Linked DNA regions of Homo sapiens. The protein of the gene in region 6 purifies or fractionates together with the protein of the main gene of each other region. This does not show direct contact. Each region holds a gene or a part of one and is shown on either strand. Other genes may lie near its edges. The genes, in order: UNC119B, NAPA, NMT1, SPAG9, ZER1, CYS1 and EDRF1.

What was found.
Region 1: the proteins of CYS1 (region 6) and UNC119B purify together in Homo sapiens (affinity purification with mass spectrometry; one large-scale study listed by BioGRID and IntAct). This does not show direct contact.
Region 2: the proteins of CYS1 (region 6) and NAPA purify together in Homo sapiens (affinity purification with mass spectrometry; one large-scale study listed by BioGRID and IntAct). This does not show direct contact.
Region 3: the proteins of CYS1 (region 6) and NMT1 purify together in Homo sapiens (affinity purification with mass spectrometry; one large-scale study listed by BioGRID and IntAct). This does not show direct contact.
Region 4: the proteins of CYS1 (region 6) and SPAG9 purify together in Homo sapiens (affinity purification with mass spectrometry; one large-scale study listed by BioGRID and IntAct). This does not show direct contact.
Region 5: the proteins of CYS1 (region 6) and ZER1 purify together in Homo sapiens (affinity purification with mass spectrometry; one large-scale study listed by BioGRID and IntAct). This does not show direct contact.
Region 7: the proteins of CYS1 (region 6) and EDRF1 purify together in Homo sapiens (affinity purification with mass spectrometry; one large-scale study listed by BioGRID and IntAct). This does not show direct contact.

Annotation. Positions count from the first base shown.
Region 1 is NC_000012.12:120,716,958-120,721,197, forward strand, and holds part of UNC119B (protein unc-119 homolog B), read left to right. Parts: coding exon 1-85; intron 86-2,962; coding exon 2,963-3,075; 3' UTR 3,076-4,240. UniProt on the Homo sapiens protein: Myristoyl-binding protein that acts as a cargo adapter: specifically binds the myristoyl moiety of a subset of N-terminally myristoylated proteins and is required for their localization.
Region 2 is NC_000019.10:47,497,634-47,501,873, reverse strand, and holds part of NAPA (alpha-soluble NSF attachment protein), read left to right. Parts: intron 1-276; exon of another isoform or gene 277-417; intron 418-1,124; coding exon 1,125-1,241; intron 1,242-4,240. UniProt on the Homo sapiens protein: Required for vesicular transport between the endoplasmic reticulum and the Golgi apparatus. Together with GNA12 promotes CDH5 localization to plasma membrane.
Region 3 is NC_000017.11:45,063,791-45,068,030, forward strand, and holds part of NMT1 (glycylpeptide N-tetradecanoyltransferase 1), read left to right. Parts: intron 1-4,240.
Region 4 is NC_000017.11:50,987,629-50,991,868, forward strand, and holds part of SPAG9 (C-Jun-amino-terminal kinase-interacting protein 4), read right to left. Parts: intron 3,041-4,240; coding exon 2,822-3,040; intron 2,245-2,821; coding exon 2,049-2,244; intron 1-2,048. UniProt on the Homo sapiens protein: The JNK-interacting protein (JIP) group of scaffold proteins selectively mediates JNK signaling by aggregating specific components of the MAPK cascade to form a functional JNK signaling module.
Region 5 is NC_000009.12:128,737,107-128,741,346, forward strand, and holds part of ZER1 (protein zer-1 homolog), read right to left. Parts: intron 3,782-4,240; coding exon 3,666-3,781; intron 3,014-3,665; coding exon 2,825-3,013; intron 1-2,824. UniProt on the Homo sapiens protein: Serves as substrate adapter subunit in the E3 ubiquitin ligase complex ZYG11B-CUL2-Elongin BC. Acts to target substrates bearing N-terminal degrons for proteasomal degradation with the first four residues of substrates being the key recognition elements.
Region 6 is NC_000002.12:10,066,716-10,070,955, forward strand, and holds part of CYS1 (cystin-1), read right to left. Parts: intron 1-4,240.
Region 7 is NC_000010.11:125,732,660-125,736,899, forward strand, and holds part of EDRF1 (erythroid differentiation-related factor 1), read left to right. Parts: intron 1-744; coding exon 745-892; intron 893-975; coding exon 976-1,084; intron 1,085-1,412; coding exon 1,413-1,524; intron 1,525-2,984; coding exon 2,985-3,245; intron 3,246-4,240. UniProt on the Homo sapiens protein: Transcription factor involved in erythroid differentiation. Involved in transcriptional activation of the globin gene.

The DNA.
Region 1 (4,240 bases), on a different chromosome or scaffold from region 6:
GACTTTGATTTTGGCTTCTGCATCCCCAGCAGTAGGAACACTTGTGAACATATCTATGAGTTTCCCCAGCTTTCGGAGGATGTCAGTATGTATCCCCTGACCCTTACAGCACTCTAGATTCTGAGGGCTACAAGGAACAAACCTTGAAACCCATCTGGTCCAGCGCCCTGGCATTGTCTCGTGGCAGTGCTGACATGATGCGTATCTAGTCATTTGACCTCAGGCTTCTCATTTCCTATTGCTCCTGGCTCCTGTTCTAAACTCTGACTCGGCCCGTATGGGAGCAATGAAGGGTTTGTTTGTTTTTGTTTTTGTTTTTTTCCCCTGAGACAGAGTCTTGCTCTGTCTGTTGCCCAGGCTGGAGTGCAGCAGCGCGATCTCGGCTCACTGTAACCTCTGCCTCCCAGGTTCAAGCGATTCTCCTGCCTCAGCCTCCTGAGTAGCTGGGATTACACCACACTTGGCTAGTTTTTGTATTTTCAGTAGAGACGGGATTTCACCATGTTGGTCAGGCTGGTCTCGAACACTTGACCTCATGATCCACTCTCCTCGGCCTCCCACAATGCTGGGATTACAGGTGTGAGCCACTGCCCCCGGCCCTTTTGTTTTTTTCTTTTTTTTTTGAGACGGAGTCTTGCCCTATTGCCCAGGCTGGAGTGCAGTGGCGCAGTCTTGGCTCAGTGCATCCTCCGTCTCCTGGGTTCAAGTGATTCTCCTGCCTCAGCCTCTCGAGTAGCTGGGATTATAGGCACCTGCCACCATGCCCGGCTAATTTTTTGTATTTTTTGTAGAGACAGAGTTTCACCATGTTGGTCAGGCTGGTCTCGAACTCCTGACCCTGTGATCCACCTGCCTCATCCTCCCAAAGTACTGGGGATTACAGGCGTGAGCCACTGTGCTCAGTCTGAAGGTTTTTTTTTTTTTTCTTTTTGAGACGGAGTCTTGATCTTGTCACCCAGGCTGGAGTGCAGTGGCGCAATCTCGGCTCACTGCAAGCTCTGCCTCCTGGGTTCATGCCATTCTGCCTCAGCCTCCTGAGTAGCTGAGACTACAGGTGCCCACCACCATGCCCGGCTAATTTTTTGTATTTTTAGTAGAGACGGGGTTTCACCGTGTTAGCCAGGATAGTCCCAATCTCCTGACCTCGTGATCCGCCTGCTTCGGCCTCCCAAAGTGCTGGAATTACAGGCTTGAGCCACTGCGCCCGGCCGGTCTGAAGGTTTTAATAATACAGGCCATCCTTTTAGATGCCTCCTGTGGGAAGACAGTGCCTAAGGGAGATAAAAGGAGGCCTGTGACCATCCCTGGGACGCTGATCAGATAAAGCACCTCTCCTGTGCACTGTTAGTCATGGTTTTCCATTGTGTTTTAGTCATTGGCCCTTCACTTTTTTCTTAATCAGAGCTAGATGTGAAACTGCAGGCTAAATAGAATCAAGGCCAGAGGACTTCTTTTCCATTCCCTGCAGGATAGAGAGTTGATTGGATAAAGTGTTGAGATAGATCCAGCAGGAAGGAATGGGGCTGTTGTAGATTTTGGGGCAGGAGTGAGAAGGTGGAAATACTGTTTGAGGAAGAGTGGCCTAGACCTGGGGAGGGCACCAGAGGGAGAAGGCTGCTGCCGTGTAGCCTCGGCAAGGGAAGATGGGGACCAAACGAGAGAGAAAGAACAGCCCTTGTCAGTTTCTGCAACTTTGGCCTAGCCACCTCAGGTTCGCATCCTTTGTGAATAGTTAGGGAAAATTCAAGTCATTTATGAGGGTGTGAATAGAATCCTGTGACTAGTGATGCCTGTAGTTGCCTTGCTGGCATCACTGATTGGTCCTCTCAGAATCCCAGGTCCTTAAGAATTGTCATATTCTGAAAACCAGATAACCTTTAATCGTGTGGCAGTACAGTTCCCAGGTAAAATGAGGATTGCTGAGATGTGGGGCAGGGTGTTGACGACAGCATCTGGTTCTGACTTGAACCCCTCTTCCCAAGCTGGCTAGAATATGTAGATACTTGCAAGAAAAGATGATGTATAGTGTTATAAGTTTTACCCATGAAGCCAAATCAGCCTGGAGGGCAATATTATGCATATAAACCGAGTAGTTTTGGCATTGGTGGGTTCAAAGAACTTTAAAAAATCAGTTTCACTTTTTGAGAACTGTGGTGAGCAACAGCATTTCCTCCAGGGGACTCCAAATGGCATGTAATCATTAACTCAAAACTGATCAGAGGTAGTATTATCTTTATTCTCCAGTATGGTTAAAGACTCAAAATGGCATGTAATCATTAACTCAAAACTGATCAGAGGTAGTGACTGTTAATTATCTTTACTCTCCAGTATGGTTAAAGAGGTCTGGGCAATTGCCTGAACAAACAAGACTTTACTTTAGATCCCAAGACAGGCAGACCTATTGCTGAATCATTTGCGAGTTAATACCCAGAAGGTCTCCGGAGAAGGCTCCCTGCCCTGTGTTCCTTGCACTCATTCCAATCTAGGTTTCCTTGGGTTGTCAGGGTTGTGTGTGGAGGTGGGCACAGTGAGGCTCAGATTTCTGAATTTGGAGTGGAATGTCTAGAGGTGGGCCACTGACCAGAGGCCAGGGCTGGCTTTGGTCAGCTGAGAGCACTGAGTAAATAGGTTGGTGGGGTCCATGTTGGGAAGAGGGGTGAGCACATTTCCCTGGTATCTTGGCTGAAGAATCCAGGCTGGAGATGACAGAGGAGGCCATGGTGGAGAGTTGATTGCATCCTTATGTTGAAATGGAGATCATGTTCAGCTGGGGGGCCTCTGTGGTCTCCCCAGCTGTCAAGGGCTGCCTCCCTCTGTTCTGACCTCATCGTTATTCTGGCAGAGTATACTCTGAAGCGCTGGCTTATTTTGGAGGGGATGCAAAGTTTTCTCCCACCTACCCTGTGGGGCAGACTCAAACATAATTCTTTGCTTTTTTCTTCCCCCTTTGCCTGACTTGCAGTTCGTCTAATGATTGAAAATCCTTACGAGACCCGCTCTGACAGCTTCTACTTTGTTGACAACAAGCTGATAATGCACAACAAGGCTGATTATGCCTATAATGGAGGCCAGTAAGTGCTGCAAGAGTAGATAGGGGAGGTGCTTTGCCGCGGCCACAAGATCCTGGCACACGGAGATGATCGAAGCTGCAGTTTGTCAACACACATCTGGAACCTGGCCCCAGGAAGCCAAGGCTGGGGTGGCAGTTTCCTGCGCGCCAAAGGAGCTGCCAAACAGTGCTGTGTTTTCTTCCCCAGTATTTTTTCTTCCCTTTTTTTCCTGCCCCGTAGGTTGCAGAGGTACTATAGTAAAGTAAAAGGTTAGGATAAGGGTCCTGGAATCCAGATAAAAAAGTTTATTTTCCGTAGTTCTGGCTGCCTGTTGGTTGTCTTGACGACCAGGCATAGCTGTGCCTGGTGAGAAGGCTCTGGCCAGGCCCACCAGCAGGTCAGCAGCTCTTAAGGTTCCTGGGTGCTGTGGGAAGCTGAAAGGTAGGCCTCTTCCAGGTAGCTCCTCCTCTCACCTCCGGCATTGCCATCAGCGCAGTCTGCCCTCGGTCTGTGTGAAGTCTTAAACCAACTGGAAGACACTTGAAAGGGTGGGGAGGGAGGGAGGTGCCAAGAGTGGAGGCACCAAGGAATGGGTGATGCTGCCAAGCTGAAGGGTCTGCTTTGTGGAGAGGCTGCTGCTCTGTCTGACTTCCAGGGTCTCAGCCAGCCCTCCTGGGAATAGACCAAGTTTTCAGCCTGGCAGTGCCTTCTGTTCCCATTTTGGAGGACAGACAAGCTTGCTCCACATCTCCTGGCTCCTCCCTTCTGAGTCTCATGAAATAGAATGAGTCAGCTCTGCTCATGGAACAGTAGTATCTCTTGAGGCCAGAGCAGGTCTTGTATTTTGTTTTTTTATTTCCAGACTTCTTTCGGGGAGGTTTTATAAAATGACAGTGGTGTTCCCAGCATATGTGATATGTGGTTAGACTTCTGATAGTATCAGCTTCCAGGGGCTAATCTGGCTTATGTTGGGAGGATATGCTTACGAATCAGCAGCAGCTTTCTAAAGGAGAGATTTGACTTTTCTCTGCACTGCACAGCCTGGAGGATTGGCTTTTGATGGGGATTTGCCTCCGAAGCTCTTTGTACATTTCTTGTTTAGGAGGGTTTTCCTATCTACCTTTCTACTGAAGTAGTTTCTGGAACTTTCCTGGTGGATCAGAGTTACGTAATGCAGTCTGAGCCTTCAG
Region 2 (4,240 bases), on a different chromosome or scaffold from region 6:
AACTTAAGAGGATAGGGCCAGGCCTCCTGGTCCTCTTCCAGCTTAGAAACTCTGACTCAGATTCAGCTGGAGGAGAATGAAGGGGAGAAGCCTCAGAGCTGAGCTGGAGGTGGTCAGCTGCACGAGGAGGAGGAGAGATGCTGCTGCCTCCCAAACGTCAGTTAGGAGATGTGTGGGCAGAATGGCTTGGGACCCACAGAAGCTGACCGTGTGCAGATGAGCACAGGATGGATGAGGCTTCAGGCACGGTCTCTTCTGCCCTCCGCCCATGGGCACTGGTCTGCATGTATTCATTCTTGCTGTCCACATCCTGTTTCCCTCTCTGGACATGCAGCTCCTGGAGGGAGCCGGCTCTGTGTTGTCCGACCCCAACTCCATGAGCCTCACAATTCATGCAAGTGCCTTGTCCATGGGGATCTGCAGTGAAGGGAACAGAATGTGAACAGAGGCAGAGGAGTTGGGAGAATCAGGAAGAGCTTTGGGGAGCTGTGGAAAAAGAAACAGGACTTGGAAAGGGGAGTAGATGGGAAGATGTTATGTGGTTTAATCTCAGTTGCCCCTTGCTTCCCAAAATACCCCTCCGAAGCCACCCCATGATTTCAGCCTGTACTTTGCCTTCTAGTGGTGGTTCTGGGCCCTGTGCTTCGAGGCTCCCCTGGGGAGGACTGCCCAGGCCGGGAGGTGCAGGAGGCCACCTCACTCTGTTTTATATCCTTTCCAACTCAGCTCTATCTGCCTTCTCCTTGGATCTTTAGAAGTGGTGGCCCTGGAAATGCTGGCATAGCTGGGATTAGGGACATGGTGTTTTACCTGGGCTTACCCTGGCTCTCTTTCCATATACCTGGGGCTCAGGGCCTTCCCCCGAGGCAGCTTCCTGCCGCCCTCAGAGACTGTCAGGTGGGCCACCAGGAGCCTCAGCGCAGGAGCCAGCAGACCTGAGCGCAGGAGCCAGGAGACCTGAGTTCTAGGCCTCGGTCTGGGCTCGCTCAGGTCACCCTCGTCCTGTCTTGGGGACTCTTTCCGCATTCTCGAGAGCCCGACCCACCTCCCAGGGCAGTGTCTCTGTGGCTTCATAAAGTGTGGAGCCCCACTGAGGCCAGGACTGCCCTTCTCTTCTGTTCCAGCTGCTGGAAACGCGTTCTGCCAGGCTGCACAGCTGCACCTGCAGCTCCAGAGCAAGCACGACGCAGCCACCTGCTTTGTGGACGCTGGCAACGCATTCAAGAAAGCCGACCCCCAAGGTGAGGGCCTCTGCGGGCCACACGGGCTGGCTGTCCGGAGCGCCATCCTAGCACCCTGCATTGATTCCTCAGGTTTCCTGGCGGCTCTGGTTTTTCCAGTGGCCGACATGTGATAGGCTGGCAGGGGCGTGCCTGAGGCAGAGTGAGCGTTGACTTTAGAACTGGCTCTCTTCCTTCCAGTTGGCATTCGCGCCCTGCTCAAGTCTCCGCCCCCCTATCTACCGTGTCGGTGGTGTCGGTGCAGCTGATCACCCCTTCCCAATCCCGGAGCATTTGGGAGTGGGAGTTCCATTGCAGACCCACCGCCTGCCGGGGAGAGAGGAAAATCTGTTCTGTTGTCAGAATTAACATGCAGAAGGGAGCGGTGTGGGGGGCGGGGAGGATTCTGAGACCAGCCAGGTAGGAGTTGCTGCCGAAAAAGGAGCGGAAATTAGCCCAACCTGGCTTCCCTACATCCTGGGGAGGAATTAGAGAGAACAGAGCCCGAGATGTAGTTGCCAGAGAACAAATTACTTAAAATGAGAGCGTGCTAGGGACAGAAACCCAGTTTGGGGCTGACTCATGGTGAGAAAACAGTTTTGTCCCCCTGGGTGCCTCCCGAAGAGGAGGTCCAGCCCAGTGTTTGCTTGCATGTGGCGGGAATTTTAATTTATTTTTTAAAATGTTGGTGCCAGGTACAGGTTGCTAATTAGAAAGCACAGGCAGTTTTTAAAAATGACCATCTATTGTCACTGTCATCTCAGGGGAATGGAAAATATATGAATCTTTAAAAAATAAAAAGCAGCTATATAATCTTGGAATAAAAGCCTGTCCTTCCCAAGAGAAGACAGGTTTGCAGCAGTGCAGGGAGCTTCCTCCATGGATCAGTGAGCACTGGTTCACATGGCGTGTTTGAGAACTGCTGGCATACCCCTTTGTCGTGATCTGACGTGTTAGTTCCCAGATGAGGATGAATTTGTGTTGACCAGTAGCTCTTCTCTGTCCTTAGACTGACCAGTTGCTCCTCAGCAGCTGGGCATCTCATGCGTTGGCCTCAGTGGTCACATGGTGGGGCTCAGGCCTGGCAAGAGGCCGAGGAGCAGCCTTGTAACTGGGTGGGCCATGGGGCTTGCCTGGCTGGTAGCACTGGGCCACAGCAGGCTGCGTGGTTGATGCAGTGATGACCCAGGGAGACCCTGGGTTGGTTTTAAGCTTGATTCACCACATGGAGTCTCCATGCCTTCCATTAAACTGCCCCGCCAAGCCTTTCCTTCTGCTCCCTGGGAAACTGGTTGGCCTAGAGGTGCTGTCTTAGCATCTGTGACGTTCAGCTGCTGCCCCATCTGGAGTGACTGGAAGGACACTCTGGGGCAACACTGAGCGCCAGGCTGCCGAACAGAGAGTGCCATTTGCTCTTTCAGCAGACCCCTCACTTCCTGCAGACAGGCCCTGCCTGGCAGTGGGATATGGTGGGGTCCCTCCCCTGCGTTTGATCTGAGCTTTTCTAGCTCTCCAGCGAGACTCTGCAGGGTGTGGGCCTGGAGTCTGGATGTGGCCCCTCCCTGGCCTTAGGAAGCTCAGAAGGTGGCTGAGGACTCCGACCGGTAGGAAAGTATAAAGATGATGTTACATCCAGGGCACAGAGGCCAACTTGCACAGAGCTGAGGCTGGGGGCGTGAATTTGGCTATGGGAGATCTTTCAAGGAAGAAAGGGGGCAGTTCTGAAAGGAGAGCCTCACCTGGGTAGAGCTGAGAGCAGGTGCCGTGTCCAGAGCCCTGGGGACGTGGTGTTGAGCAGGGAAGGGTGTTAGTGCAGCTTCCAGAGCTACAGCCTAAAGATACGCACGCCAGCCATGACTCCCAGTGGGGCAAGGGGCACATTGGCATCAAGGGCAGTGGCTGCTTTGTGTCTGAGGCTAGTCAGGCCTCACACAAGGCCAGGTGCAGTGGCTCATGCCTGTAATTTCAGTGCTTTGGGAGGCTGAGGCAGGAGGATCGCTCAAGCCCAGGAGTTCAAGACCAGTCTGGACAACATAGTGAGATCCTGTCCCCAAAAAAAAGCCTCACAGAGAATGTCATGTAGCAACTGTGTGTGGCTCAGCAGCGCAGGTGGTGGGTGGTCTGGGAGGACCCTGCCTCCCCTGTGATCCTGGGCAAGTCAGTCTTTTGGGCCTCTGTTTCCTCGTCTGTTAAAGCAGAGACTGCTGTGAGATGATGCAGTCATGCCCAGCGCGGCACCTGGTGTGTGATAAACTTCCAGTCAGGACACCCTTGGCTTTCATCAGTCCAGGGGCCCCTGCCTGCCCTGGGCTCCCCACAGCCTCTGCCCTTGGCCGGGTGCCTTGTGAGACAGCGCTGGAGGCCCGATTTGGAACCTTGCCTGGCTTCCCCAAGCAGGTGGCCGGTACCCTGGGGCCGTCCTCATCACTGGTCTCCTCAGCAGCCTAGAAGGCCTCTGTCTTGGGTCAGCACTTCTAGGGCTTCCTCCAGGACTCCCTCCAGAAGGACCTGCCCCCAAGTGGCAGCTGGAGTGTGCCTGAGGCCCGACTGGGCTCCCGAATTCCTCTCCCTCTCGCAGAGGGTGGCCTGCTGCCACCTTGGTGGCTCTGGGTGGGGAAGGGTGATGCTCATATGTGTTATTGGTTCCTCAGTTACCCAACCATGGCTGCTGCTCAGGGCAGACTCGGGCCAGCGAGGCCTCTTCCCAGGCCTGCCTGATAGTTGGGGGTGGGGGCAGTGTGTGTACCTGGGGCAGAGAAGCGACCTGGCCCCTGCTTGTCCCCCACTTCCTCCCCAGCTGCCATTTACTGGGTTTCTACTGTGTACCAGATGCTTGGCATCTTTTAACCCATTTGATTTCTTTGTGCATTCTGTGATTTGCCCCCATTTTACTAAGGAGGAGATGACCAAGTGTAACCAGGAAGGGCTTCAGAGACGCAGAAGTCAGGTTGGGCGTCGCTGGTAGGAGTGACTGCGGGGATGGGCGGTGGCCTGGGCCATAGCTCCCCAACTTGGGCTGT
Region 3 (4,240 bases), on a different chromosome or scaffold from region 6:
GAGACTGAGGCAGGAGAATCACTTGAACCTGGGAGGTGGAGGCTGCAGTGAGTTGAGATTGCACCACTGCACTCCAGCCTGGGCAATAGAGCAAAGCCCTGTCTCAGAAAAAAAAGTGGCACACAGTGGCTCATGCCTGTAATCCCATCACTCTGGGAGGCCGAGGCGGGTGGATCACGAGGTCAAGAGATTGAGACCATCCTGGCTAACATGGTGAAACCCTGTCTCTATTAAAAATAGAAAAATTAGCTGGGCATGGTGGTGCATACCTGTAGTCCCAGCTACTCGGGAGGCTGAGGCAGGAGAATCACTCGAACCCGGGAGGCGGAGGTTGCAGTGAGCTGAGATTGCGCCACTGCACACCAGCTTGGCAACGGAGCGAGACTCCATCTCAAAAAAATAAATAAATAAAATTATTTTATTTGTAGTAGAAGTAAGTGATAACCTTAAAAACTTTGACAGTTTGCAGTGGTGTCTCTGTGCATGGTTATGGTCTGGGTGAAAAAATTATGTTTATTAGCGTCCCAAATCTAAAGATCTGTGAAAATGAGTTTGGAGGTAGTAGGTGAAAAACCAAGGGCCTAGTCTGGAGGAGAGAGTCTAATTCTGGCACTAAGAATCTGGGGTAGAGTCAACATTTTTCCATGAACTTTGAGAGGAAATGGTTTTGGGGAGAAGCAGCAATGTGGGAAAATGCAGCACGGCACAGTAGAAAAGCATGGACTTTGGAATAATTTAAATCTGGTCTGAGGCCAGGCGCGGTGGCGCACATCTGTAATCCCAGCACTTTGGGAGGCTGAGGTGGGCAGATCGCTTGTGGTCAGGAGTTTGAGACCAGCCTGGCCAGCATAGTGAAACCTCATCTCTACTAAAAATACAAAAATTAGCTGGGCATGATGGCAGGCGCCTGTAATCCTAGCTACTTAGGAGGCTGAGGCAGGAGAATCACTTGAAAACAGGAGGCAGAGGTTGCACTGAGCTGAGATCTCTCCAGTGCACTCCAGCCTGGGCGACAGAGCAAGCCTCTGATCTCAAAATCTCATCTCAAAGCTTGGCTCTGACACTTAACAGTCCTGTGACCTTGGGAAAGGTACTTAACTCAGAGTTGTAGGGATTAATGAGATAACATCTGGAATGCACTCCTTTTCCTCCCTCCTCCTCTTTCTTCAGATCGTCCCTAACCTCCCAGCTTGCCCCTCTGCTCTTATCACATACTGTATTGTAGCTTTTATCGTAACAATAGTTATAATAACAATAAATATAACTACATGTTTGGTAATTTTTCTTAATGTGTCTGGTACCTGTCTCATCTGACAGTAAGGAGCATGTAAACAGGATTGTGTCTTCGAAATGCCTAGCACTTAGTGGGCATTAATGAGTATTTGCTGTATGAATGAATGGCAGATATTAAAGTGCCTAGCCCAGTATTAGTGGAGTTTCATCTCCCCTCACCAAGTGAGAGGATGTCAGATTTTTCTTACATACACATTTTCTCTCCCCAAATAATTCTCATTGTAAGCCTCACTACAGTTTTTATGAAATACCTACAGAGGCAGGGCATGGTGGCTCACACCTGTAATCCCAGCACTTTGGGAGGCTAAGGCGGGCGGGATCATGAGGTCAGGAGATCGAGACCATCCTGGCTAACACAGTGAAACCCCATCTCTAATAAAAATACAAAAAATTAGCCAGGTGTGGTGGCGCATGCCTGTAGTCCCAGCTACTCGGGAGGCTGAGGCAGGAGAATGGTGTGACCCTGTGAGGCGGAGCTTGCAGTGAGCCGAGATTGCGCCATTGCACTCCAGCCTGGGCGACAGAGCCAGACTCTGTCTCAAAAAAAAAAAAAAAAAAAAAGAAATACCTACAGAAACCAGGAAGCTCCAATTTGCTGTGGAGCTTTCCACTGTTGTGTGCTTTCCACTGTGTTTTGCTTCTTGAAATGTTTTTTGTCTTAATATTATTTAAAATGTTCTCAAAAATCATGTAAAAATTGACAGAGAAGTTTTCCTTTCAATGCTAGAGAGTCTAAAATGTGTAATATATAATAAAGGTTAATGATAGTTCGAGCTAACCCTTATTCTCCTGGGCCTTTTTTTTTTTTTAAAGAGACTGTGTCTCGCTATGTTGCTCAGACTAGTCTCAAACTCCTGGGTTCAAGTGATCCTCCTGCCTTAGCCTCCCAAAGTGCTGGGATTGTAAGCATGAGCCACCACACCCAGCCTCCTGCCCCTTTTTTTCAGGAACTAAAGTCATAGTACTCTATGCTAATAAAATGAGCTAAATTCATGTACTGGATTCTGTTGCCCGGGCTGGAGTGCTGTGGCGCGATCTTGGCTCACTGCAACCTCTGCCTCCCGGGTTCAAGAAATTCTCCTGCCTCAGCCTCCTGAGTAGCTGGGACTACAGGAGCACACTGCCACACCCGGCTAATTTTTCATATTTTAGTAGAGACGGGGTTTCACCGTTGTTGCCCAGGCTGGTCTTGAACTCCTGAGCTCAGGCAATCCACCTGCCTTGGCCTCCGAAAGTGCTAGGATTACAGGTGTGAGCCACCACGCCCGGCCAGTTGTATTAGTTACTTATGTCTCTTTGTATATGAATTTAGTTCTTGACTTTTCTGGTCTTGTGTTTCCTCCGTAATTAAATCAGCATAAACATTTGGTGAATATAAAACTTCATGTGGTTGTGTGTAGTGGCTCATGCCTGTAATCTCAGCACTTTGGGAGGCTGAGGCAGAAAAATCACTTGAGCTCAGGAGTTCGAGACCAGCCTGGGCAACATGGTGAGACCCCATCTCTATAAATAAAAACAAAAAAACCCAAACCCTTCATGTATACATATAGGTATACATGCATACATATGCAGTGTGTATGGGTGCGTCTCTTCAGTTTTTCTATTTAAAAATTTTTTAATTTAATTTTAAAATTATTGTTATTACTTTGGAAACAGGGCCTCGCTCTGTCGTCCAGGCTATAGTACAGTGGTGTGATCATGGCTTACTGCAGCCTTTGACCTGGGCTCAAGCGATCCTCCCACCTCAGCCTCCCAAGTAGCTAGGATTGTAGACATGCACCATCATCCCTGGCTAATTTTCTTTTTAAAAAGTTTCTGTAGAGATGGGGTCTCACTATTTAGCCCAGGCTGGTCTCAAACTGCTGGCCTCAAGTGATGCTGCCACCTTGGCCTCCCAAACTGCTGGGATTGTGGGCATAAGCTCCTGCATCCAGCTGGTTTTGTTTGTTTTTTTACTGCACTCAATTTCCCCCAGTTACGTGCCTAGCGTAATTATCCTGAACAATTGAGAGGAGAGTCAGATAAGATAACCTTTATGCAGCATCCCCCTGTAGTTCGTGATTCATCTATATGGTTTAATTTGATTTTTTTTTTTTTTTAATGAGAGTCTTTCCAAGAAGTATTGCCAAAGAATAAATCTCATCAGTTGGCAGATTTTAATTTGGGGGTAATAAGTGAAGATTGTCTGAGTGTTTTGGAACAAAAAAGAACTTTTAGACTATTGTGTTCTAGGAATCTTTCGGAATTTATTTTGCAGTGTCTTCAGTGTCATTGAGATCCTGGTAAGCACGGGTCAAGAGCCCTCTGACAAGAGGTGTCTCATCTCCATCCTGCTCTCTTACTCCCTGGGACAGGTTAACATGGATTCTTTATAAGTTCTCCTCATTTCCTGGTTGTGAGATACTATCCCTTATGAAAACTTAGGAGGAGAGAAAAGTCTTTCTGAAAATAAATTCCATAAAGCTAGCCTTACTTGTTTTTGTTTTTTTCTTCAGCTTCTCCAAGAGTCGTTCTTTCCCTATTTATTTGATGGCTTATAGCTGCAGCTAGCTCTTGGAAATAAGAAATCTTTTTAGTTCCTTTTTAATTTCTCCCTTCAACTTTTGGTTTTTCAAAACTAGATCAAAGCAGAATGGAAAGAGAAACCTCATCACTGATATCAAATAAGTGTTCTAATTTTGTTTCCCAATTAAATGGCAATTAAAAAGAAACTAATCAAGAGCTGCTTCAAAGAGAAGAGACTGGAAAGCAGAAGAAATGGAAAGTAAATGAGAGCCTATTTCAGGGACTCGCTGCTCATGGCACAGCAGTTTTGCTGATTTTTCACATTGTTCAACTAATATGCTCACGCTAAAATTCCCCAGCTTTACTAAGTTGGCAGTTAACCCTTTCCCTATAGAGCCCATAGATTTATGAGCCATACATTTAGTAACTTCAGGAGGATGCT
Region 4 (4,240 bases), on a different chromosome or scaffold from region 6:
AGGAGCAGAAAAGATAATAAGACATGGTAATGAAATACAGCAGTTAATATTCAGACAATTACTATGGCTGTCTCTTATTTTGGGTTTTGTCATAGTTTCTTCTCAAGTGAGAGAGAAGGGAGGGATACACACATACAAATAGTAGGGAGAAATATAAAGAATGACCTAAAATAAATTAATAAACTGAAATATGTTTAATATTCTATCACAAAACCTTTCCTTTGAATTGTCAGGGCATATTTAGTAAAAGATATATAACCAGGCTATCAAATTCAAACATGACTTATTCTTAAATTAATAATTCAGGCCAGGTGCGGTGGCTCACGCCTATAATCCCAGCACTTTGGGAGGGTGAGGTGGGTGGATTTCTTGAGGCCAGGAGTTCAAGACCAGCCTAGCCAACATGATAAAACCCCATCTCTACTAAAAATACAAAAATTAGCTGGGTGTGGCAGCACATGCCTTCAATCCCAGCTACCTGGGAGGCTGAGGCAGGAGAATCGCTTGAACCTGGAAGGCGGAGGTTGCAGTGAGCTGAGATTGCACTGCTGCACTCCAGCCTGGGTGACAGGGTGAGATTCCATCTCCAAAAAAAAAAAAGAATTAAATATTAACCCATTTATGCCGGAGGTTGCAAATTTTTTTTGTAAAAAATCAGACCTTAGCGATGACCTTGAGCAGTAGGATATGAATAACTCCCACAAGCTTAGCATTCCAATAATGGACCACTAGGCATAAATGGGTTATTAATTAATCTTTCTTACTTTATACACTAAGAATATTAAACTTTAAAAAGGATCTAGTTTAAAGAGACTCTCATCTAGAGGGGATCTAGAAAAGGCAGGAAAGAAAATAAAATAATTCACTAAATGGGCCTAGATTAACCAACCCTTTAACGGAGGAGCCTAAAACAAACAGTTTTCTTTGGTTTGTTTGTTTTCTGAGACAGAGTCTTGTTCTGTTTCCCAGGCGGCAGTGCAGTGGTGATATCATGGCCCACTGTAGCCTCCAGCTCCCAGGGCTCAAGCAATCCTCCCACCTCAGCCTCCTGAGTAGCTGGGACCATAGGTGCACGCTACCACGCCCAGCGAATCATTAAGTTTTTTGTAGAGATGAGGGTCTCACTATGTTGCTCAGGTTGGTCTTGAACTCCTGGACTCAAGCAATCCTCCTGCTCAGACTCCCAAAGTGCTGGGATTATAGGCATGAGCCACTGGAACTATCTGAGTTGTTTTTTAATAAAATATTTGCATGAAAACTAAATTCAAAAAGGTCATCCACACCCATGTGGGAAACTTGTACAATGGCAGATTTAAACAATGGCCAATTTTGCTGATAACTGGAGTGAAAATTAGAGTAGGGGTGGGATTAAAATGACAAAGAATTACTTATAGAATGGAAGACAGTAAGTACAAAAAAAAAGAAAAAAAAACAGATCAGAGGAGAAAATGAACAGAAAGATTTTGACTAATATATAGTCACACACCTGGTAAAACCATTTTGGAAAATGATGGACAGAATATATGGTGGTGGTTCCACAAGATTATACTACTATATTTCTACAGTACCTTGTGCATGTTTACATACACAAATACTTACCGTTATGTTCCAATTATCTACAGTATTCAGTACAGTAACATGCTGTACAGGTTTCTAGCCTAGGAGCAATGGGCTATACCATATGGCCTAGGTGTGTGATAAGCCATACCATCTAGATTTGTGTAAATGCACTCTATGATGTTCACACAATGATGAAATCACCTAATGACACATTTCTCAGAACATATCCCCATTGTTGACTGATGCATGATTATACTTTTATAGATAAGATTTTTTTTTTAAATTGGAAGGTGTACAGAAGAAATGGGGGGGAATATCCAGCGAGAATGATGGAGCGGGAATACATGAAATTATCACAAGAATAGGTATCTTTTAATCCACCACAGTGACACTAATTAGTGGAAATCTTTTGACTGTTTGAGATTATTTTGGTTCCTTTTATTTGTGCACTTCACCCAGTTGCCTAAGTTGATGACCCATTATTATACCTCGACTGATACACTGGGGAGAGGTCTTCTGGGATCTGAACTCCCAAAGGATCTGTAAAGACATGCTCTGTGTAGACGCCAGTTTGGGAGATGTCCACTGTGTCTTCAGCTGACCCCGCATTCCCTTCTGTAGCTTCAGTTGCTTCTTCTGCTGTTGGAACATTTTCATCAACCTCACTATTTTCTGCTTCCATTTCTACAAAGTAAATAAAACACTATTCCAAGTCTGGGCTTTTCTCCTCCAATTATTTCCCCACACAAACCCCTGTTATAGAATTCCATTCCATCTACCCACTCCTTCACACTGTACCATGAAATTAAGAATTCTTCATTCCATTTAACAGTCATTACAGCATTTTTTTTTTTTTTGAGACAGAGTCTTGCTCTGTTGCCCAGGCTGGAGTGCGGCGGCGTGATCTTGGCTCACTGCAAGCTCCACCTCCCAGGTTCACGCCATTCTCCTGCCTCAGCCTCCCGAGTAGCTGGGACTACAGGCACCCGCCACCACGCCCGGTTAATTTTTTGTACTTTTTAGTACAGACAGGGTTTCACTGTGTTAGCCAGGATGGTCTTGATCTCCTGACCTCGTGATCCACCCGCCTTGGCCTCCCAGAGTGCTGGGATTACAGGCGTGAGCCACCACGCCCGGCCTACAGTATCTTCTTTCAAGTTCTTTCAACCTTGTTACTTAAGATCTAAATTAAGTCCATAATGAGGCATCTGAGTGTAGCCTTAGACTCTATACAGATGGCAGGTAAAGAGAATGGATATACCTGGTGGTTTATCCATCACTGGAGAAGCACCATTTGTACTAGGGGAAGTGGCAGCTCCCGTCACACCTTCTGCAGAACAACCAACCACTGTGATGCCTCCTAACAGGCTGTCTGTCTCTGCTGAGCTGTTGCTTGTCATACTTCCACATAAAGATGCTTTGTCTACCTGACCAGATTCTGAAAGATCTTCTCCTGCAGGGTAGTCTGTTTCTCGTGCACCTGAAAAATAAATCTTCTTGTAACAGCAAAGTAAACTTCTATAAATAACATTTTTTTTACTAAAACAATTACAGGTTTGAAATGAGAGTTATGCAGGTGAGATGTACAGGTAGTTGAATACAGGTAGCATTAAATTTACATAAACAAATCTTCACAATATGGGAAGGTAACTTAAAAAATTAAGAAAATACTTCTATTAACACAAGTGCAAATAAACATAAAAATGTCAGAAAATAAACTTTTTTTTTTTTTTTTTTGAGACAGAGTCTTACTCTGTCGCCCAGGCTGGAGTACAGTGGCATGATTCAGCTCACTGCAACCTCCGCCTCCTTGGCTTAAGTGATTCTCCTGCCTCAGCCTCCTGAGTAGCTGGGACTACCGGTGTGAGCCACCACGCCTGGCTAATTTTTGTATTTTTGGTAGAGACAGGGTTTCGGTATGTTGGTCAGGCTGGTCTTGAACTCCTGGCCTCAAGGGATCCACCAACCTCAGACAAGTCCTAGGATTACAGGTGCGAGCCACCACGCCTAGCCAGCTTCTGTTCTTAGTGAGCTCCTCAGCAGCCACAGGTTAAAAACAATCTATTATATCTGACAACATCAGCCAAAAAAAAATTCTTTTAAATCATCAAGACTACTGCTACTACTTGAAGTATAAGCTTCTATCCATTACTGTTAAAAATTAAATGCCCCAAGTATATAGGTTGATTAAGATATTAGTAAAACATTAAAAACTAAGCATTTATAATATAAAAATATTTACAATATAAAAATAAATCTCATTTTTTAATTTAGAAAATTGTTTTATTTATATCACACTAAAAACTTTTATTGCAGTAAAAATAATATATATATAAACAAAATTTGCCACTTTAACCATTTAAAAGTGTACAATTCAGTGGCACTAATATTTACAATATTGGCATTAATATTTATAACATTGTGTAGCCATCACCATTATTTTTTTTTTTTGGCGACAGAGTTTCACTCTTGTTGCCCAGGCTGGTGTGCAATGGTACAGTCTCGGCTCACTGCAACCTCTGCCTCCCAGGTTCAAGCAATTCTCCTGCCTCAGCCTCCCAAGTAGCTGCGATTACAAGCGCCTGCCACTGCACCTGGCTAATTTTTGTATTTTTAGTAGAAACGGGGTTTTACCATGTTGGCCAGGCTGGTCTCGAACTCCTGACCTCAGGTGATCCGC
Region 5 (4,240 bases), on a different chromosome or scaffold from region 6:
GCACTCCAGCCTGGGTGACAGTGCGAGACTCCGTCTCAAAAAAAAAATTTTTTTTTTTGTAGAGGTGAGGGCTCACTATATTGCCCAGGCTGGTTTCAAACTCCTGAGCTCAAGTGATCTTCCTGCCTTGGCCTCCCAAAGTGGCTGGGATTCTAGGTGTGAGCCACCGCATCCGGCCTGTGACTGCTCTTCTGACGAGGGCCTTCTGTGGGCCAGCCTGGAGTCATGGTCCAAAAGCCTGAAACACGTGTGTGCAAAACTCCTGGGCCAGCGATTCCGCTTCCTTTCTCCCCAAGAACTATAGTACTTGGCACACTGGCAACGCTACCAATGTCAGCCTGTTCCTCCCAGTATGGGTTTTCAACTGAAATGTCCATCTGTACAGGATGGCACAAAGAAAGTGACTCCGTCCTAAAATGACGAGGGAGATCCATGCCTGGTGATTGGCCAGTCAGTCACAAAACAGTAGGAATTGATGCCAGCTTGACTTAAAGTAATGAAATCTGTGCATAGAAACACTGCTGGAAGGAGACACACCAAAATGTCAACAGGAGTTCTCTTTCAGGGAGTGAGATTATGAACGATTCTTGTTTTCTTCTTCTTCTTTTTTTTTTGAGATGGAGTATCACTCTGTTGCCCAGGCTGGAGTGCAGTGGCGAGTTCTTGGCTCACTGCAACCTCTGCCTTCCAGGTTCAAGTGATTCTCCTGCCTCAGCCTCCCAAGTAGCTGGGATTACAGGTGCCCACCACCATGCCTGGCTAATTTTTGTATTTTTAGCAGAGATGGGGTTTCACTGTGTTGGCCAGGCTGGTTTCGAACTCCTGACCTCAGGTGATCCGCCTGCCTCAGCCTCCCAAAGTGCTGGGATTACAGGTGTGAGCCACTGTGCCCGGCCCTGTTTTGTTTTCTTGTTTTTTTTATTCATTTTTATTTTTATTTTTATTTATTTATTTTTGAGACGGAGTCTCGCTCTGTCGCCCAGGCTGGAGTGCAGTGGCGCGATCTTGGCTAACTGCAAGCTCCGCCTCCCAGGTTCACGCCATTCTCCTGCCTCAGCCTCCCGAGTAGCTGGGACTACAGGCGCATGCCACCACGCCCGGCTAATTTTTTGTATTTTTAGTAGAGGTGGGGTTTCACTGCGTTAGCCAAGATGGTCTCGATTTCCTGACCTCATGATCTGCCCGCCTCTGCCTCCCAAAGTGCTGGGATTACAGGTGTGAGCCACTGTGCCCGGCCCTGTTTTGTTTTCTTGTTTTTTTAATTTATTTTTATTTTTATTTTTATTTATTTATTTTTGAGACGGAGTCTCGCTCTGTCGCCCAGGCTGGAGTGCAGTGGCGCGATCTCGGCTAACTGCAAGCTCCGCCTCCCAGGTTCACACCATTCTCCTGCCTCAGCCTCCCGAGTAGCTGGGACTACAGGCGCATGCCACCACGCCCGGCTAATTTTTTGTATTTTTAGTAGAGGTGGGGTTTCACTGCGTTAGCCAAGATGGTCTCGATTTCCTGACCTCATGATCCGCCCGCCTCTGCCTCCCAAAGTGCTGGGATTACGGGTGTGAGCCACCGCGCCTGACCTTCTTCTTTTTTTTAAAGAAATGGTCTCATTCTGTCCCCTAGGCTGGAGTGCAGTAGCATGATGTTGGCTCACTACAGCCTCGACCTCCTGGGCTCAAGTGACCCTCCTGCCTCAGCCTCCCCAGTAGGTGGGACTACAGGTGTGCACCATCACACCCAGCTCATTTTTTTTTTTTTTTTTTTTTGAGATGGAGTCTTGGTCTGTTGCCCAGGCTGGAATGCAGTGGCGCCATCTCGGTTCACTGCAACCTCTGCCTCCTGGGTTCAAGCGATTCTCCTGCCTCAGCCTCCTGAGTAGCTGGGATTACAGGTATGTGCCACCACGCCAGGTTAATTTTTGTATTTTTAGTAGGGACGGGGTTTCACCATGTTGGGCAGGCTGGTCTTGAACTCCTGACCTCGTGATCTGCCCGCCTCAGCCTCCTAAAGTGCTATGATTACAGGCGTGAACCACTGCACCTGGCCTGATTTTTAAAATTTTTCGTAAAGAGGAAGTCTCACTATGTTGCCCAAGCTGGTCTTGAAATCTTGGGCTCAGCTGGACGCAGTGGCTCATGCCTGTAATCCCAGCACTTTGGGAGGCCGACGTGGGCGGATCACGAGGTCAGGAGATCGAAACTATCCTGGCTAACACGGTGAAAACTCGTCTCTACTAAAAATACAAAAAAATTAACCGGGCGTGGTGGCGGGTGCCTGTAATCCCAGCTACTCTGAGGCTGAGGCAGGAAAATGGCGTGAACCCAGGAGGCAGAGCTTGCAGTCAGCTGAGATTGCACCACTGCACTCCAGCCTGGGCGACAGAGCAAGACTCTGTCTCAAAAAAAAAAAAAAAAGAAAAGAAAGGAAATCTTGGGCTCAAGTGATCCTCCTGTCTCAGCTTCCCAAAGTGCTGGGATTATGGGCAAGAGCTACTGTGCCCGGCCCACCTGTATGGTTTTCTGTTGTGTGTCTATTTTCTCCCCACCCCTCCCCACAAATCAGTAGGTATTAGTGGTTTGCAAAGAGCAGGCTTTGGGTACATGCAGATGTTGGCATGTATGACAAATGCTCCAGGCTGCACGGATGAGATCGTGCCCTTATGTATGCTCTGTGCTGTGTGCGGCTACGTATCAATGAGTGAAAGCAGAACCCTACAGAAGACCAGAAGGAAGGTGGGAGCTCTGAGCAGACCTTAATGGTATGAGCATCCTGCCCAGCACTTACCCCATATTCCACACCGCATCCCCGCTCCCTGCCCTGCCCACACCTGTAATTGATGTTTCTCCGAGAGTTTATGTCCCAGCTCTGGATGGCAGCCCACATGCGTTCCTCCACCTCCTCACGCTGGGGCTCACAGACGCCCCAGGCCTCGGGTCCATCAAACATGATGTGGGAGAGGACGCCGCAGGCATTGTAGGAAACCTCGATCCCATCGGCCTTGCTCTCCAACAGGTTGCTGCCAGGAGAAAGACAGAAAAATGGAGTCCCACTCCCCCAGTTTCTCTTCAGATACCAGCGGCAGGACCCCAACTTAAAACCAGAAGCAAGAGGTGCTACTTATTTCTTTATCCCATATCGTCTATATACCCAGACTACTTCTAAAGGGATTTGAGGTCATTTAAGATATAATTACAGGCTGGGCGCAGTGGCTCACGCCTGTAATCCCAGCACTTTGGGAGGTCAAGGCAGGTGGATCACGAGGTCCGGAGATCGAGACCATCCTGGCTAACATGGTGAAACCCCATCTCTACTAAAAATACAAAAAAATTAGCTGGGCGTGGTGGCAGGCGCCTGTAGTCTCAGCTACTCGGGAGGCTGAGGCAGGAGAATGGCGTGAACCCGGGAGGCAGAGCTTGCAGTGAGCCTAGATTGTGCCACTGCACTTCAGCCTGGGTGACAGAGCAAGACTCCATCTCAAAAAAAAAAAAAAAGATATAATTACAAAAGGACCACTTACGAAGGATTGAATGAATAAGAAACCACATTATCGAGGGAAAATGACATTTATAGCAAACCTAGGCTAAGAGCAGTTGTGCAACTGAGCAAACGCTAGAGCTCTGAGCATTGTGGCAGCTAAGGCAAAAAGGGAAAGGATTAAAAATACCAACCTGAAGACGCTGATGAACTGGGAAGTCATTAGTTGAGGCCTCAGCTCCTTCACTTCTGCCACATTCCCCAAAAGTCCTAGCATATTCCTATGCAGTTCCTGCTTCTCTGGGAATTCCTGGGAAAAGGAGAGCCAATGGGCCGCATCAATTAGTACTTAATGACTTAGTATCTGGTATTGTTAACCAAAAAGCTTCATGGGCATCTGGCCATGCCAACTAGACAAAGAGGGGGCATATATGCTGCCCTCCTACCCTCCAATGCTCCTAGGTCAGTGCTGGGTACACACACTAAGGAATTAAAGGGGTGGGATTGCTTGCCACAAAGACAAAGGTTGATTAGAGATCTGACCTATGGGACAGACGTGGTTCTGTTCACCAAAGCTCAAAATACTAGTTTAAGGGACCCTCCTAGAAATTAAAGCAGGAAAACAGAGCATGTGTTTAAGGATGAACAGACCCGCTGTCCAGCTCGTAGCGTAGTGGGCTCTGGCCAGCTGTGGGCAGCCTGAGAACAACGGCCGAGGAGACAGGGAGGGGCTTTCCCTGGGAGTGGGGGCTCTCAGGAGGCCCCACCA
Region 6 (4,240 bases):
ACAATGGGGTTACGGCCCGAAGAAAACATTGCAAAGTGGAAAAATCCTATGTTGAATCATCAAAATCAGGGACCATCTATACATGTATTATAATCAGCTTGTCATATTTGGGGGAAAAAAACCTTGGGGATTTTTCTAGGGTTGTATTAAACTATAGATCATTTTAGGGGGACTTATAGCTTTACAATAATGAGTCTTCAAATTTATAAATAGGGAATATCTATTCATTTAGGACTCCTTTAGTGTCTTCTAAGAAGTTATCATTTTCCCTATAGAGATACCATGGATATCTCTTTTTATTTTATTTATTTATTTTTGAGACAGAGTTTTGCTCTTGTTGCCCAGGCTGGAGTGCAATGGTGCGATCTCAGCTCACTGCAACCTCTGCCTCCCGGATTCAAGTGATTCTCCTGCCTCAGCCTCCTGAGTAGCTGGGATTACAGGTGCCCGCCACCACACGCAGCTAATTTTTGTATTTTTAGTAGAGATGGAGTTTTCCCATGTTGGCCAGGCTGGTCTCGAACTCCTCACCTCTCAGGTGATCTGCCCACCTCAGCCTCCCAAAGTGCTGGGATTACAGGCGTGAGCCACTGTGCCCAGCCAGCAATGTTATCTTTTTAAAATAAAATTTTCTACTTGCTTGATGCTTCAGAAATGACTGAGATATATACATTTTAAAAAAATTCTTTTCTTTTTTTTTTTTTTTTTTTGAGACAGGGTCTTGCTGTGTTGCCCAGACTGGAGTGCAGTGGCCTGATCATAGTTCACTGCAGCCTCCACCTCCCAGGCTCAAGCAACCCTCCCATGTCAGCCTCTCGTGTAGCTGGGACTACAGGCTCGTGCCACCATGAAGAGCTAATTTTTCATTTTTTGTAGAGATGGGGTCTCACTGTGTTGCCCTGGCTGGTCTTAAACTCCTGGACTCAAACAATCCTCCCATCTCAGCTTCCCAAAGTGTAGGGATTACAGGTGTGAGCCACTGGGCCTGGTCAGAGATATATGAATTTATCTTGTGCTTAGCAGTCTTACTGAATTCTCTTATTAATTCCAGTAATTTATGGCTTCCTTTGGATTTTCTTATTTCCCATTCACATGATCTGGGAATAATGGCCATTTGATTTTTCCCTTTCTGGTCCTTATACATTTTTCCCCTAACCTTTCTGCACTGGCTGGGACCTCCAGTAGTACAGTAAAAGGAAGTGATGATGACAGTCATCTCTATCTTAATCCTTTATTGAAAGAAAAAGTTTCCATCACATCATGACTGAATATGATATTTGCTGTAGTTTCTTCTCCAGCTATCTTGTATCAGGTCCTTGTCTCTCTATGCTGTGTTCTGGGTCATTTCTATCTCCCTCTCTCCATCTCACTGATCCTCTCTTCATCTCTGTCTAATCTGTTAAACTTATACCATTGATATCTTTCATTTTGCTTATTATATTTTCCATTTCCAGATGTCCTATTTGGTTCTTTTTCACATCTTCTAGGTCACTTTCTATAGTCCTTGTCCTTTGCAGGTGTTTTCTTTAAACATAATAAACGTAGCTGATTATAGTCTGTGTCTGGTGATCCTAGTAACTAAGATCTTCATTGGTATATTTTTGTTTCTTGTTTCTTCTAAGTCTTCACTTGGTTCTTTGGGGAGTTGATTATTTTTTGTCATTGGCAGCTTGTCATCATTGAAAAATTCCCTCTGGGTATTCTTTGAGGCCTAAGAGGCCTTCCTCCAGAGAGGGGATGCATTTGCTTTTGTCAGGCACATAGCAGGCATCCCTGGTCTGAAACCACTTCAAATTAAATCTATACTTTCAAGTATTTTGGACCACCAGGTGATGAGAATTTAGGCTGCAAACATAAGAGGTGCCTGGGTTGAGCTTACAACTTCCTAGAGCTTGCAAGATCTTTCTGTTCAAAGGAAAAAACTTTTGGGTAAATAGGTGTACACGATTACAAAGAAACCCACTCCAACTGCATGTGCTAGTCAACCAGTTTTTGGTTCATAAATATAAATGGTCATAAAACGACTCACAAACATTTAAAGGGGGAGGGCACATGAAAGAATAATCAAGATGAACCAGCTAGGCGTGGTGGCTACCAACACTTTGGGAGGCCGAGGCGGGTGGATCGCCTGAGGTCAGGAGTTCCAGACCAGCCTGGCCAATGTGGTGAAACCCCATCTCTACTAAAAACACAAAAACTAGCAGGGTGTGGTGGCGGGCACCTCTAATCCCAGCTACTGGGGAGGCTGAGGCAGGAGAATTGCTTGAACCCAGGAAGCAGAGGTTGCAGTGAGCTGAGACTGCACCACTGCACTCCAGCCTGGGTGACAGAGCGAGGCTCTGTCTCAGAAAAAAAAAAAATTAAATTTTAAAAAATAAATAAAAGTCTCCAGGAAGGGATGAGCAGGCGGAGACAGGCCACCTACAAAAAGCCAAGAGTCAGGTGGCCTCACCTGCTCATCAGTGACACTGGAATCCACTGTTATAATGGCTGCAAAGGTATAAGGGAAAGCTATTTTGAACTCAGAATTTTAATTCCAAATAAACTATTAATCAGGTATTAAGAAAATGAAGATATTTTCAGACATACAAAGACTTAGAGTTTATCTCCTATTACCCTTTCTGGAGGAAAAAAAATTAATTATTTTTATTTTGTTGTTGTTGTTGTTTTTTGCGACGGAATCTTGCTCTGTCACCAGGCTGGAGTGCAGTGGCACAATCTTGGCTGACTGCAACCTCAGCCTCCTGAGTTCAAGCGATTCTCCTGCCTCAGACTCCCGAGTAGCTGGGACCACAGGTGCGTGCCACCACGCCCAGCCAATTTTTGTATTTTTAGCAGAGACAGGGTTTCACCATGTTGGCCAGGATGGTCTCGATCTCTTGACCTCATGATCCACCTGCCTCAGCCTCCCAAGATGCTGGGATAACAGGTGTGAGCCACTGCGCCTGGCCGAAAAAAATATTTAAAAAAAATTTTTTTTTTAATCATAGAAGATAGAGGTTTCATGAGCCTAATGGAATGCAAGGCAGAGGAAACTTTGGATAATGTGTAATAAGGCCAGAAAGCAACCTGTCAGTGTCCAAAGTTCCCATGACATAAATTGAGCGATCAGAGTAGCTGCTCCAAATATCTGAAGAGCTCATGTGGAAACAGGCCACACTTCTTCTGCCTGTCCCAGGGGCTCAGTGTGTCCCCACTAAAGGGAGGTGGGTTGTGTTCAACACAGAGGACTAAGTCAGAGCTGCCTGTGAGGGAAAGGCTGCCCCAGGAGGCAGTGAGATGCCTGTCACTGAAGCCAGACAGAGGCTGGGTGATCCAACAGCTCATGCCCCCTTCTTAGAATTCAAAATCAAGGCCAAACACACACCCTGAAGTCACGCACTTCTATTTCTAGGGTCACTGTGAACGCTCAGCAGGTGAGGAGGGGGAGGGCAAGGGTAAGAAGGGATCGCGACAACAGCGTCTTCATGCTCCCGTCTCCTCACCTTCCGGGCCTTGGTGTACTTGGTTCAATGCCAAGGAGCTCCCCAGGGTTCTCCCAGCCTGGCCCAGTACCCTCTGATGGGTGTGGCTTTGCCTTGACCTCTATCGCTGCGGTCCCCGTGCTGAGATGGAGAACCTGTTTTATTTTTATTTTTCACTTTTTTTGAGATGGAGTCTTGCTCTGTCATCCAGGCTGGAGTGCAGTGGCGTGATCTCGGCTCACTGCAACCTCTGCCTCCAGGGTTCAAGTGATTCTCCTGTCTCAGCCTCCAGAGTAGCTGGGATTACAGATGTATGCCACCACACCTGGCTAATTTTTGTATTTTTAGTAGAGGTGGGGTTTTGCCATGTTGGCCAGGCTGGTCTTGAACTCCTGACCTCAAGTGATCCACTCGCTTCAGCCTCCCAAAGTGCTGGGATTACAGGTGTGAGCCACTGCGCCTGGCATATTTATTTATTTATTCGAGACAGGGTCTTGTTCTGTTGCCCAGGCTGGAGTGCGGTGGCCTGATCATAGCTCGCTGCAGCCTCAACTCCTGGGCTCAAGCAACGGTCCCATCTCAGCCTCCTGAGTAACTGAAACTACAGGCACATGCCACCACACAAGGCTAATTCTTGTACTTTTTGTAGAGACGAAGTCTCCCTATGTTGCCCAGGCTGGTCTTGTACTCCTGAGCTCAAGCGATCCCCCCACCTCGGCCTCCTAAAAAGTGCTGGGATTACAGGCATGGTGAGCCACCACGCCCAGCCTGAGAAC
Region 7 (4,240 bases), on a different chromosome or scaffold from region 6:
ACTTCACATGAACAAAGTGGGGTGAAAATCAACCTCAGACGATTGTGTTTGGTCTTACATTCCAGTTGATTTGAAGTTTCCAGTTTTAGAGTACTTCAGAAAATGTGGTAGGAGATGGTTAGGAGAGTGTGCACAGAAGATAAACAAGAAAAATGCAAAGGCACTTTTAAAATAGTGGTAGTAATGTCCATGAAGCCTTTACTCTTATTGCCACCTCCATTCCCCCCTGCTCCATCCCTGTGAAGTAATAAAGTCCATAGATGAAGGGAAGAGAGGTGTCTACTGGAAAATTTCCTAAATGATTCTCTCTCCTTGAGTCACTGACTGTAGTTTCTAGCAAAAAAAAAGGCCAGAAATACATGTGTTTTAAAATCTTGCTGGGTAAAGCCTACCTTCATTTACCATCTTCCCAGTTGAAAACCATTCAAGTGGAATAAAAGTAGTCAGTATGATTTGTTCCATGTTAGAACAGAAATAAGATCATGCCTGAATCTGAGGTTCTAAATCTGGTAGTGATTCTCCATTGAAATTACTCCAATAGTGAACTGCCCTTGCTGATGGGGTGGATGAGATTCCTTTGGGAGGCTGGGGCAGAAAAAAGATTAAAAACCACTGGTTTAAACACTTTCATGCTACATAGGTCTCTGTTTGCAGGACTTCTGCATTTGGTTGCTTTTTAAAAAGAAAGGTGTTGTTTCCTTGGGTTTTCTCTTAAACTGCTTTCCATCTGTCTGTATTTTACAGAAATATGAAATGATAAAGACAGAAGAAATTCCCAATTTGGAAAATTCTAATTTTTCTACTAAAGTCATAAAAGACATTGCACAGAATATTTTATCATTTTTGAAATCTAATTGTACCAAAGAAGGACATACCTATTGGCTCTTTAAAGGTAAGCTATTAATACTTCTTGAGTGAACAATAATTGATTTGGGTAACTGCTGTGAAATGAGTCTTCTTTGTTTTTCTTTTCAGCAAGTGGCAGCGATATAGTGAAGCTCTATGACCTCACTACTCTTTGTGAAGAAACTGAAGACAAATACCAAAATCCATTCACAATGCCGGTAGCCATTCTCTTGTACAAGTGAGTGCTTTAAGAATTTAAGATGAAGAAGTAGCCTATTATATAAAGTTTTAAAGCATACAGTCACAGTTTCCAAACCAAGGCTTTTAAATGCTTTTAGGTTTTCATAGTAGGGGGAAAAATACACGTACACATTGTACCAAATATTACTCAGCTTTCTTATGCCACCATAGTATAAACGTTTTGGGGGTTGTGGGTAAAGTGTAAAGTTTAGTATTTTGTTGTTTCTTATAGCTCTTTGTTGGAAAGAAACAAGAGCACTCCTAGACTTGAGTCTTGCAGACAACGATGAAATGGGCAGTAAAGTTGATATAAACTCTTTTTTTAGGGTTGCTTGCAACATGATGATGAAGAAGAATCAAAATAAGAAACACTATGGAACTATTAGAACATTGCTTCTTAATTGTCTGAAATTACTGGACAAAAGTAGGCATCCTCAAGTAAGATTAACATTTATGTATTCTCTAAAACAATCCTAGCATTCTAATAGGAGATTGTTACCTAGACAGTAAAGCCTCCTGATTCATATTCCGTAACTGCCCTATTCAGTGTGGTAGCCATTAGCACATGTGGCTGTTGATCACTTAAAATGTGCTTTGTCTGAATTGACATGTGCTGTAAGTGTAAAATACACACTGAATTTTGAAGATTGGATGTCTGTACCTATTACATGTTGAAATGCAATATTACATATATTGGATTAAATATATTTAAGTTGATTTCACAGATTCTACTTTTTAAATGTAGCTACTAGAAAATTTAAAATTTCTGTATGTGACTCATGTTACATTTCTCTCAGACAGCACTGCTCAATGAATTTAGAATTCATGTAATTCTAACAGTAGTGCCCTTAGTTCTTTGTTTTGTCGCTATTAGACCTTGTTACCACTTTGTTAATATAAATAGGGTTCACATTCCACACTTCAGGATATTAAAGCATCTCTTAAATAAAGGCCAGTAAAATTTCTTTTAAAGAGAAGGGGAAAAAGCATCTCTTAAAATATTCCCTCAGTCATGCTCCCAACAGTTTTACACCATCCTTACCCTCGGTTGTCTGATTGACAACTTTATTTTTCACTGTTAAGGCTATTTGTTGTATCCTGTTCAAATCAGTAAAGGTATGTAAGATACGCAATTTTTCTTTGAAGAGCCAAAGTAATTTTAATTGTAGCCACATTTGATTTAGAGATAAAGATTATCCTAGAGACCAAACTCAGAAATGTTTTTGAAGAAAAATAGTAAAACATTTTGTTTCTGACTGAAATACCTAATTGCTGACTGAGGTGGCAGTGTTTAGTGGAACTTGAGTGGTTTATTTGGATGTTAGAAATGGTGTTAAAGACTATTGTCTGTGATTAAGAACTGATAAATAGTAGAATGGGTTAAATGGTCATATATAAATGCTAATTTTAAGAGATATCAGAATGGACTTTTCCCTTTTTAATGTAATGGTTTTTTTTTTCTAGAACCATAGATTATATGATAAATATTAGTTACCTATTATAGAGAAACTTGAATTAATTTATAGTTTGTAAAGAAAAATTCTGGTTTCTCACTTGGCATAGGGTGGTATTAAATTTTTGTTAATATTTTAGTTATGACACTCTGTACTCAAAAGCTTTTGTTTGTCTCCAGTGAAATTCAGTTGACACCTTTTAAGAGGGAGGGCTCAGGGTGGAGTAATTTCGGGAAATAGGAAATGCATCAGCCTATAAAGATTTTGCAGAGCATACCCAGAGTATCAGTAGCTTTGAACTGGGAACATTTCTGTGTGTGTTACAGTCTATATGGTGGAAACAGCCTGTGTGCAGACCTCCTCCTAAAATTCGTTAGTATGGTAGTAAAATTCATGTATTTTTTGATGACAGTAATTTACACATATTTCTCTCTTTTTCATAAGATTATTGCTTCCGCCAATTACATGCTTTCAGAACTTTTTCAATTGGATGAACCTAAAAAGGAAGAAAATTCAGAATCTCCTTTAAATGAGAATTCTGATGAAAGTTATAGTGAAGAGGAGGAAGAGATGCCCGACAGTGATGAAAATGGATCCTATAGCACCAGCTCTGATCCATCAGATGATAGCAAAGCAGTAGCTATAATCAAGTCTGTTGGAGAACTATCAGTACCAGAAAAATACAAATCTATTCATCAAATCAGAGTAAGCCTTTAGAATTTATATTAAATTTTTATCAAGGAAACATAATTGTTAATCGAATATAGTTAGCCTTTCAAAAGATACCATTACTTCAATAAACCTTTCATGGTCTAGCATCTAGTAATCATTAGTTTTCTGAATTCTTAAAGTTGGTTTTATAATTGTTCGAGGGTAACTGACCCACATTATGCAAGCCTATAGTGGACAGGTGTGTAAACCAGGTGTCTGTCTATTCTTATGTGAAGGATTTTCCTTTCCAGTGACCAGTGTGTAGTCATAGTCATGTCTCATTACTAGGGCACTTCTATCCGGTGTTGGGGTTGCTGGGAAATGACATATATAGATTGCTTGGTGAACATAGAGTAGAGAAGGGGGTGGCTCTTGGAACTGTATATGGTGAGCTCTGGTACATTATCCCTGTGCTATATAGGACAGTACTTTTTTCGTGACTCTTGTGGTCATGTCTGTTGTATTGGACATGTCTCTGCCCTGGAGAGGGCCAGACAGATTTCTCCCTGTGTGGATTGCACTGACTCTACCATCAGTGTATCTCCAGGCAGTATATACCTTTCAACATACCGTCTCCCTATGATTAGATCCAGGCCAGCCTTAAGAGTTCTGGCTGTTCCCTGAACTGAAATACAGTCGTATTTACAGATAATCTCTTAATTTAAGCACTGAGTGTAACTTTCAGATGGAAACTCTAAGCAAGTTTTTGAGGGGCTATGTCTGTCACCTTAAAACATTGACCATCTTTCTGACCTTCACTTGCTCCATTGGTTTGCCGTGGCCATGCTGGGTTTTTTTTCTCTCAAAAGCATCAAGATTATGCTCATTGGAGGGTCTTTGTATTTGCTGTTGCTTCTGCTTGGAATGTACCTACCCTAGGTCTGTTCATGGCTGCCTTTTTTAAGGCTTAAGTCTTGACTGAAATGTTGCCTCTTCAGGGAGATGTTCCCTGACCACTCTGGCCAAAGCATGCTCTACTTTTTTGTCCT